Linked DNA regions of Homo sapiens. The protein of the gene in region 1 purifies or fractionates together with the protein of each later gene. This does not show direct contact. Each region holds a gene or a part of one and is shown in the gene's direction. Other genes may lie near its edges.

Region 1 (4,910 bases):
GCCAACATGGTGAAACTCCATCTCTACTAAAAATACAAAAATTAGCCGGGTGTGGTGGTGCACGCCTGTAATCCCAGCTACTTGGGAGGCTGAGGCAGGAGAATCGCTTGAACCTAGGAGGCAGAGGTTGCAGTGAGCGGAGATCGTGCCACTGCACTCCAGCCTGGGCGACAGAGTGAGACTCTGTCTCAAAAAAAAAAAAAAAGTCTCCCTCCCCTAATTTCTTTCTCTAGAGGTATCCACTGGGAACAGTTTGTGTATATTCCAAGTAACTGCTGTCAGATTTATGGAGCATTCTGTATTTATCCACTGAGGGCAGGGAACAAGACTGTTTCCCTACCCTGGTAGAGGAAAGTGGCAGTACAGAAATCTGTTTCTTTCATTGTGAACAGAGTCTCACATTCCCAGTCAGGAGGTCCCAGGCACCCAGGTGGGACAAGGAGGAAAGCTATGGGATCCCAGTGTCCAGAGCTGCAAGGAGGGCCTGAGCCCCAGAGGCCCAGCTCCAGGTAAGGAATGAAGACAAGTGGCCTGCGCAGCAAGCAGCAAGGCTCTTGCAGTTAAGAGTGAGGCATTTTTTGGTTTTGTTTTGTTTTGTTTTGAGATGGAGTGGCACTCTTGTTGCCCAGGCTGGAGTGCAACAGTGCGATCTCGGCTCACTGCAAGCTCCGCCTCCCAGGTTCAAGCGGTTCTCCTGCCTCAGCCTCCCGAGTAGCTGGGATTACAGGCATGCGCCACCACGCCCAGCTAATTTTTTGTATTTTTAGTAGAGTCGGGGTTTCTCCATATTGGTCAGGCTGGTCTCCCTGACCTCAGGTGATCCACCCACCTCGGCCTCCCAAAGTGCTGGGATTTACAAGTGTGAGCCACCGCCCCCAGCAGAGTAAGGCATTTGAGGATTTGGGTGCAGGGCCGGCCCAGCACAGCTGCTAGAGAGGTACATTACGTCCTTTGACCCTGCCATTCTCCATCCCAGTGAGGCAAGTGAGGAACCCAGGGTGCAGAGTTCAAGGAGGCCCTTATTCTTGAGCTTACTTGTCCCACCCTACTCTCAGCCCTGCTCCATCCCACCCATTCCTGAAGGGCAGAATCGAGAGGCTCAGGTGGAAAGGAAAATTCTAAGACTGGTCTCGGCTCTGATTCCTTGACCAGTGGCCCGACCCTTTATCCTGATGCTTCTCCAGAGTGCTTTACCTTTAGGAGAGGATGGGATTCTGAGGTAGAAGCAGCCCTTCTGGGCTGCTGACCTAACAGGCAGCGGCAGACAGGTGGGATTTTCTTTTCTCCAGCATAGAAATAATGTACGGGTTTGGTTTCTCTCTCTCTACCAGGAGAAGAGAAATTTGAGAACCTGGAAGGTGTTCCGTCTGTATGCTCTGAGAACATCCACCCTCAGGTGCTGCTTCCTGACCAGGCCCGAGGGGAGGTGCCCTGGAGTCCTGAGCTGGGAAGACCTCATGACCGGTCGCAAGGGGATTGGGCGCCTCCCCCAGAGGGTGGAATGGAGCAGGCCTTGGCAGGAGCCTCAAGTGGCAGAGAACTGGGGCGACCGAAGGAACTGCAGCCAAAGAAACTCCATTTATGTCCCTTGTGTGGCAAAAATTTCTCTAACAACTCAAACCTAATTAGGCACCAGAGAATACATGCAGCTGAAAGACTGTGTATGGGTGTGGACTGCACTGAAATCTTTGGTGGGAACCCACGTTTCCTGTCACTACACAGAGCACACCTGGGAGAGGAGGCCCACAAGTGCCTTGAATGTGGGAAATGCTTCAGTCAGAACACCCATCTGACTCGCCACCAACGCACCCACACGGGTGAGAAGCCCTATCAGTGCAACATTTGCGGAAAATGTTTCTCCTGCAACTCCAACCTCCACAGGCACCAGAGAACGCACACTGGGGAGAAGCCCTACAAGTGCCCTGAGTGTGGGGAGATCTTTGCTCACAGTTCCAACCTCCTTCGGCACCAGAGAATTCACACTGGAGAGCGACCTTATAAGTGTCCCGAGTGTGGGAAAAGTTTCTCTCGGAGTTCACACCTCGTCATTCACGAAAGAACTCATGAGAGAGAGAGACTTTACCCCTTCTCTGAGTGTGGGGAAGCTGTGAGTGACAGCACCCCCTTTCTTACAAACCATGGAGCCCATAAGGCAGAGAAGAAGCTCTTTGAATGTTTGACTTGTGGGAAAAGCTTCCGGCAGGGCATGCACCTCACCAGACATCAGAGAACACACACAGGAGAGAAACCGTATAAATGTACCCTTTGTGGGGAAAACTTCTCTCATAGATCCAATTTAATCAGGCACCAGAGAATCCACACAGGAGAAAAACCCTATACCTGTCATGAGTGCGGAGACAGCTTCTCTCACAGCTCCAATCGGATTCGCCACCTGAGAACGCATACGGGAGAGAGACCCTATAAATGTTCTGAATGTGGAGAAAGCTTCTCTCGGAGTTCCCGTCTTATGAGTCATCAGAGAACTCACACAGGTTAGTAACAGTGGGGTTTCTCTTTGCCCCAGGTGAGGTGGCATATTCAGAGGAGCCTGTTGGCAAGAGCTGGTATTCCCTGCCCAGCCGACCAAATGACCTCTGCATTCTTCAGGTAATGGGGGCTCATTGTGAGGGAGGTGCAGAGGCAGCAGAGGATTGGCATAAAACTGAAAAGGAGTTCTGTCTGCATGAGAAAGGATGGCAAGTCTCTGAGGTGACCTCAGGGTGGAATTCTCTGTTAAGTCCACCCTGCCCCAGGGTGCTCCTACCCTCTTGGTCTTTTTAAAGCCAAGGTGCGATTTGGGCACCTGACTGTCCAGTTTACCTTAACAAGTTTGGGAATCCATGTGATGTTTTTGATACTTCTTCCTCATTTGGGACATTCAGTAGGAGCATTTGGGCTTCCGGGGCCCCTGAGACCAAAGAAGAGGGGCCAAGTACCCTGGGAAATCAGCTGAAGGTCAACAAAAGACTGGTTGTGAGTTGCAGCTGTCCCGAAGGCCCCAGTTGGGAAGCCATGGGCAGTCCAGATCAAGCCACCACGTGCCCTACGATGGCCTAACAGGAGTGCCCATTGGCAGATTACACATGTAAATATGACCTCAGACAAAAAGGAACCAGAGGCCCAAGGGCAATAATAAGGTGGAATTTGCAGGTCAGCCCAGGAATTGGCAGAGGAAGTAGGTGTCTGATAACCCTTTGTGGAGAATGAGATTCCCCCCACCTGTGTGAGAAAAATAAACAGCTCTGGAGTCTTGTTCCTGACTCCAGAGGAACGAGAGCATTCCAGGAAAGAGAGATTCCCTGGAAAATTGAAAATGTGAATCCTAGGGGGAAATTGGGGATTGTGTCTTTCCCTGTTGAAAATGTTTGGATGGGAATAAATATCTTCAGGAAACATAAATGTCTGTGAGTCTTCAATGAAAGCCTCTGTCTAGACCCCCGAGTGTTGATCTGTCTCCCCTCTGCCTTGGTCAGAGGCCCTGCTTTCTCATAGACTTACTGGGTTGGTCAGGAAGATGCTGACAAAGGAGGCAGCAGACAGGCAGAGGCAGGTGAGGGCCTGGCAGCCTCCAGGCTGGGACTGCCATGTGGTAACAAAGGGTCAAGCCAAATGGCTGCTGGGGTGATGCTGTCATAGGGTCTCTAGAAAGTATTCTTTCCTTCTGTGGTCTATAGCAGTAAAAATGTTTTCAATTCTTTGTTTAGAATGTTTACATTCTTACTCAGTAGCTGAGGAAGATCTGACTCTTAGAGAACAGGATATTTTGGTCTTGCAACTGATTTCCAGGGTGGAAGTTAAGATGGTCCCAGTATAACTGAGTTATTGATTATTAATGGTAGGAAGATATAGGAGATGGCGCAATTATTAAGGGAAAGCATTATATTTATTTTTTGGTAGAGGTGGGGTCTCACTATTTGCCCAGGCTGGTCTTGAGTTCCCGAGCTCAAGCCTTCTTCCCATCTTGGCCTCTCAAAGTGCTGGGATTACTAGCATTGCATTTTAGAATGGCATATCAGAAATAGGAATTCTAGTAGTGTGTATCTGTGGGAAACGGGGGAGTATTCTAAGAGTAGGAAATCGGATGCCAGGAAAACACCTCAGGATACAGCCCCGGAGGAAGGTATCCAGCTGTTCTTCGGGTGAAAAAGATGAAGAAACAGTCCTTTGGGAACAGGCTGATGGATATAGCAACTTGAAGTCATGGAAACAGCGCTCCATTGATCCTTCTCTCAGCCCTGCCTCAGTTTAGTATGTGTTTTTCTTTGGTTGTCTGAGCCAGTTTTTTAATATCTCACTATTTCTCATTTCTGTAACTTCCTCTTAATCAGCTTGTTCACAGGAGGAGGGCAGTGGTGGTGTGGGGGTTGAGGGCAGGGAAGTGGAGGGTTAGGATTAGAGAGATCAGAGTAGGATCAACAGTGGTAGGAGCAGGACCACACTCCAGTGGAGCAGTGCAGGGCCAGCCAGGCTGCTGATGTCATGAATTGGATGGAATGTAAAGCTGGTGTTCCTACAAAGCACTCTGGTTAAGATGGCAGTTTATGTGGACAGAGACTGGAAAGCGCCCCTTCCATCTACTCTCCCTCCCTTGGTAACATCACCCACACAGATCTTATGATGTGGTCCAACTGGTGCTGCTCATACTTGGAACACTGCAGCTTGAAGCTGGGAAATGACTCTCAGGTATTTGCCATAAAAAGGCATTCCATTGGAACGCTTCACTCAAATCTTCAGTCTAGTTCCCCTTCTAGTAAACTTCACATGCTTAGCTGTTCTTGGCCTGTTTTAATGAGATGACATCACAGAAAATAACTACATAAAGCAGCACTATGCCTGGCATGTAAGAAAGTGCCAACTGTCGACAGATGATCCAAAAGATTTCCTTCTAAGCATCTAACACTGACTGAGGT
Region 2 (4,587 bases), on another chromosome or scaffold:
CTCCCAAAGTGCTGGGATAACAGGCGTGAGCCACTGCACCCAGCTTCTCACCCCAGTATTCTTGTTCAGTGTATCTAGGATGTAATTTTAAAAACTCCTTCAGCTGACTGACATACAACCCAATTTGGGAATTCCTTAGTAAAAGAAAAGAGGTAAAAACAGTTTTCAGCTGGGTGCGGTGGCTCACACCTGTAATCCCAGCACTTTGGGAGGCTGAGGCGGGCGGATCACTAGGTTAGGAGATCCAGACCATCCTAACACGGTGAAACCCCGTATCTACTGAAAATACAGGTGTGGTGGTGCATGCCTGTAGTCCCCACTACGGGAGGCTGAGGCAGGAGAATCGCTTGAACCCAGGAGGCGGAGGTTGCCGTGAGTGGAGATCGGGCCGCTGCACTCCAGCCTGGGCAACAGTGAGACTGTGTCTCAAAACACAACAAAGAACAGTTTTCAATGTGAAGGGGAAATCGTTTTCTGTTATTTAATAGGAATTGCAGTAATACAGAGGCTGGGAAGAAAAACTGTCAGTGAGATAATAATCCTTAGAAGAGGAGGCAGAAGTGGGAGACAGTGAGAACATGAGGATGTGAAAAGCATAAATTATTAATTGGCTTGAAGCTTCTGAACAATGGAACTTTCCTCCTAAGTTATATCCTGCTGGATCTCTCTGAAATACTCATGGGTAGTTGGAACCTGACTTTTTAATATTTTATATTATCTACTTTCCTGCGTGTAGCATTGTTTTAAAATGTTCTATCTCTTTAAAATATATTTAAACAGCTTTATTGAAGAAGGTCAGTTTTAAGCAACATTTCCATATCTGGTATTTGTTATGCATTATACTAGGTGCTAGAGAAAAGTCAGATGCTTTTCTTGGCTTAAAGAGCATAGTCCAATATAGGGGTATAGGCATAATATCTGCCTACAGATGTCTGTAATGTGCATCAGTCATTAACATGACAGTCCAAAAACTTCAAATTGTACCCCATTATTTAATCAAAGTAGAAAAAGTCTACCAAACTGTCATGACCTATACATTTTACTGTCCAGAGACTTGGGGGAGATTTCTATTTTGGTGTCTAATTCTTTGTAATCTGTTATACTATGGGAATTTGTCTTCTTTTATCTAAAACCAGGTGGTCATGGGATATAATCTCCTTCTCCTTACCCTTACCTCTCATCCCCCCAATTGTGCACATCGTACACATTGTCATCTGTTTTTTTCTAGGGCTCAGGATGGGGTTGAGGCTTGCTTCTGAATTCTAAGTACTAATGAGGCCACCACTCAATCACTGTGCTAATGTACAACTGTCTGGTTCCTTCTTTCTTTTTTTTTTTTTTTTTTTTTTGAGACGGAGTCTCGCTCTGTCGCCCAGGCCGGACTGCGGACTGCAGTGGCGCAATCTCGGCTCACTGCAAGCTCCGCTTCCCGGGTTCACGCCATTCTCCTGCCTCAGCCTCCCGAGTAGCTGGGACTACAGGCGCCCGCCACCGCGCCCGGCTAATTTTTTGTATTTTTAGTAGAGACGGGGTTTCACCTTGTTAGCCAGGATGGTCTCGATCTCCTGACCTCATGATCCACCCGCCTCGGCCTCCCAAAGTGCTGGGATTACAGGCGTGAGCCACCGCGCCCGGCCCTGGTTCCTTCTTTCTGCTTCTTATCATGAACCTGAACTCCTAAGAGATAGGTCCATAGACAAGTATTCATATAATGTTAACCAGTTCATTTTTTCATTTAAGTATAGCTAAGTTTGTGCATATATATATCATTTTCTACGCCTCTTTTGCAGGTAGTAGCCATGGTTATGTGGGTTCCAGTAGTAGAATATCAAGAAGAACACATTTATGCTCCGCTGCTACCAGTAGTTTACTAGACATTGATCCATTAATTTTAATACATTTGTTGGACCTTAAGGACCGGAGCAGTATAGAAAATTTGTGGGGCTTACAGCCTCGCCCACCTGCTTCACTTCTGCAGCCCACAGGTAAAATAATAACAATGATAATTTCCTTTTTTTCTGTGGTTCTCTAAAAGAACTCTTGGATTTTCATTTAAGTATTTCAGCTATGTGTGGAACATGGTGTATTTCTGTGTTTTTCATTGTATACCATAAAAATGACATTTATGTCAACCAAATTAGTTTTTAAATTACCGTTCAAAGGTGATTTGTGCAAAAACAAAGTAAAAATGCCTGCAAGAAGGTTTTTTGTGACTTGCTACTCAGATTTTGCCTGACAGTTTGATCCATATGAAATACGGTTATCTTCTTTATGAATGGACTTTTTTTGGTCAGGCTTCATGAATTCCCTTACTTCCAAGTGGAACTATATCTAAATTGAACGTAGAAAAAGGTGACTTACTCATTCTTTGATGTTCAGTAGCTTAAAAATGTATGCCAGTTGGCAGCACTGTTTTCTGTGCAAAGGTTATTTGTTAAATAGAAATTACATTTGTGTTACTATAATAAAATGGAGATTTGTATAGTCAAATATGGGCTTTTTTAAACTCTCGGGGATAGAGTCATTTTGGACAACTAAGTATTTGCCTTTAAAAGCTACATTTTAAAAACCATTTTTGTTGGAATGCTTTCTAAAGTATAGTCAGTATATTCAAAAATATATGCCAAATATTTTTCTACCTTCTTAAACAATAGTATTATATACATCAAATCAATGATTTAGAACTCTGATTTTGATGTAGTTTTAAGGCAAGATAACTCATTTTTCAATCAAAGTCCAAGGCAGAACCTCTGTGTAAATAACAGAGAAATAGAGCTCTTCTACTGGTGTAGGGACATGGAGCCCAGATTATTTAGGCTTCTTCTTTCCTAAGAGCCAGATATACTTCCTGAAAGTCTGGATCCTCAGCTTAAAAGACTATCTTCAGGTTATGAAACAGTTGCCTTTTATGTGTGCGCCAAGTATGCTTTATATAAAGTTTTACTTAAATGTTAAGTGTTGTTTGCAAAGGCCCAGTGAAACAGACAGGTTCTGATTCTGTAGGTAGATATGTAAGTTGGTTTAACCTTTTTGAAGGACAATTTTGTAGTAGTTTAAAAATATCTATATCCTTTAAACTTGTAATTTCACTTTGAGGAGTATATTCCAAAGAGAAAACAAGCAGATGTTTAAAAATATTCAACAATACAGTTATAGCTGAATAAATTACAGTGTAACCATGCAATGGTATATTTTATAGACAAGTAAAATCGTGTTTTTGAAAATAATCAGTATCATTGGGAAAAATGCAAACTAAATAGTAAGATTTCTGTGTAAAACTAGTTTTCTGTGTAAAAACAATACAAATGAGATGATCTGAATTTCAAATTTAGGTGATAAAATGCTGGCAATAATGAGGGCGGGGAAAATAGTAGAAAGAAAAAGCAAGTTTTGGATTTAAACATCTTGAGTTGGGCATAACAGTGTGACATCAAATTAGAAAGGACCAGTAGACAGCTAAAAATTAAGAACTGGGGCTGGGCGCAGTGGCTCACGCCTGTAATCTCAACACTTGGGGAGGCTGAGGCGGGTGGATCACCTGAGGTCAGGAGTTCGAGACCAGCCTAGCCAACATGGTGAAACCCTGTCTCTACTAAAAATACAAAAAATTAGCCGGCCATTGTGGCAGGTGCCTGTAATCCCAGCTACCTGGGAAGCTGAGGCAGGAGAATGGCTTAAACCTGGGAGTCGGAGGTTGCAGTGAGCCGAGATCGTGCCATTGCACTCCAGCCTGGGCAACGAGTGAAACTCCATGAAAAAAAAAAATGAACTGGAATACAGACAGTTATTTTTCTGGAGGTGATACTGGATAATTAAAACCAAGGGTGTGAGATTGCAAAGGAGTTTTAAGAATATTTTAAAAGAAGAGAGCCAGGAACATAATCCTGATGAATATCTGTTTTTACTGAGTGTCAGGAAGATGAGCCAGATAAAGAGCTTTTAGAAAGGAGAAAAAATACTCATGGAAGCCAAATGAAAATACCTTTCAGTGAAGGGATGTTAATAAAAGCTAGTGTGCAGAAATATATGACTTTCTTTTTATTGAAAAGGCTTGCTTGGGTCATTTTTTGTTTGATTGATTGTTTGTTTGTTTTTGAGACAGAGTCTCACTCTGTTGCCCAGGCTGGAGTGCTCTACAATTTTTTGTAGAGACAGGTTTCACCATGTTGGCCAGGTTTGTCTCAAAACTCCTGAGCTCAAGTGATCCACCTGCCTCGGCCTCCCAAAGTGTGCTGGGATTATAGGCGTGAGCCACTGCACGTGGCCTGCTTGGGCTTTGATGTTTATTTTTTTCTGTGTATTTATTTAACACATATTTAGTGAACATTTGTCAGATTAACTTCATGTTCTTAACCATGTAAAGGAGTACTGTAAAAGGTATCAGGTAATCTAGTTGAACCAGATTTTAAGGTACATATAGTGGTAAGTAGAACTAGAGTCATGTTGGGTCCATTCTATGAAAGGACTTGCATGCTAGCCGGAGGAATTTATTCATACTAGGCATGGAGAGCTATTGTTTTATTTTAGAAGTGGTTAGATTCAAACCGTATTTCAGAAAGCTGACAGTTCTGAGAAAATTATCAGAAA

Evidence for each region. The genes of interacting proteins can lie anywhere in the genome.
Region 2: the proteins of ZNF263 (region 1) and TRIM37 purify together in Homo sapiens (affinity purification with mass spectrometry; 2 studies listed by BioGRID and IntAct, with this or other methods). This does not show direct contact.

Annotation. Positions count from the first base shown.
Region 1 is NC_000016.10:3,288,062-3,292,971, forward strand, and holds the end of ZNF263 (zinc finger protein 263), read left to right. Parts: intron 1-392; coding exon 393-509; intron 510-1,331; coding exon 1,332-2,497; 3' UTR 2,498-3,399; downstream 3,400-4,910. UniProt on the Homo sapiens protein: Transcription factor that binds to the consensus sequence 5'-TCCTCCC-3' and acts as a transcriptional repressor.
Region 2 is NC_000017.11:59,029,294-59,033,880, reverse strand, and holds part of TRIM37 (E3 ubiquitin-protein ligase TRIM37), read left to right. Parts: intron 1-1,790; coding exon 1,791-1,985; intron 1,986-4,587. UniProt on the Homo sapiens protein: E3 ubiquitin-protein ligase required to prevent centriole reduplication. Probably acts by ubiquitinating positive regulators of centriole reduplication.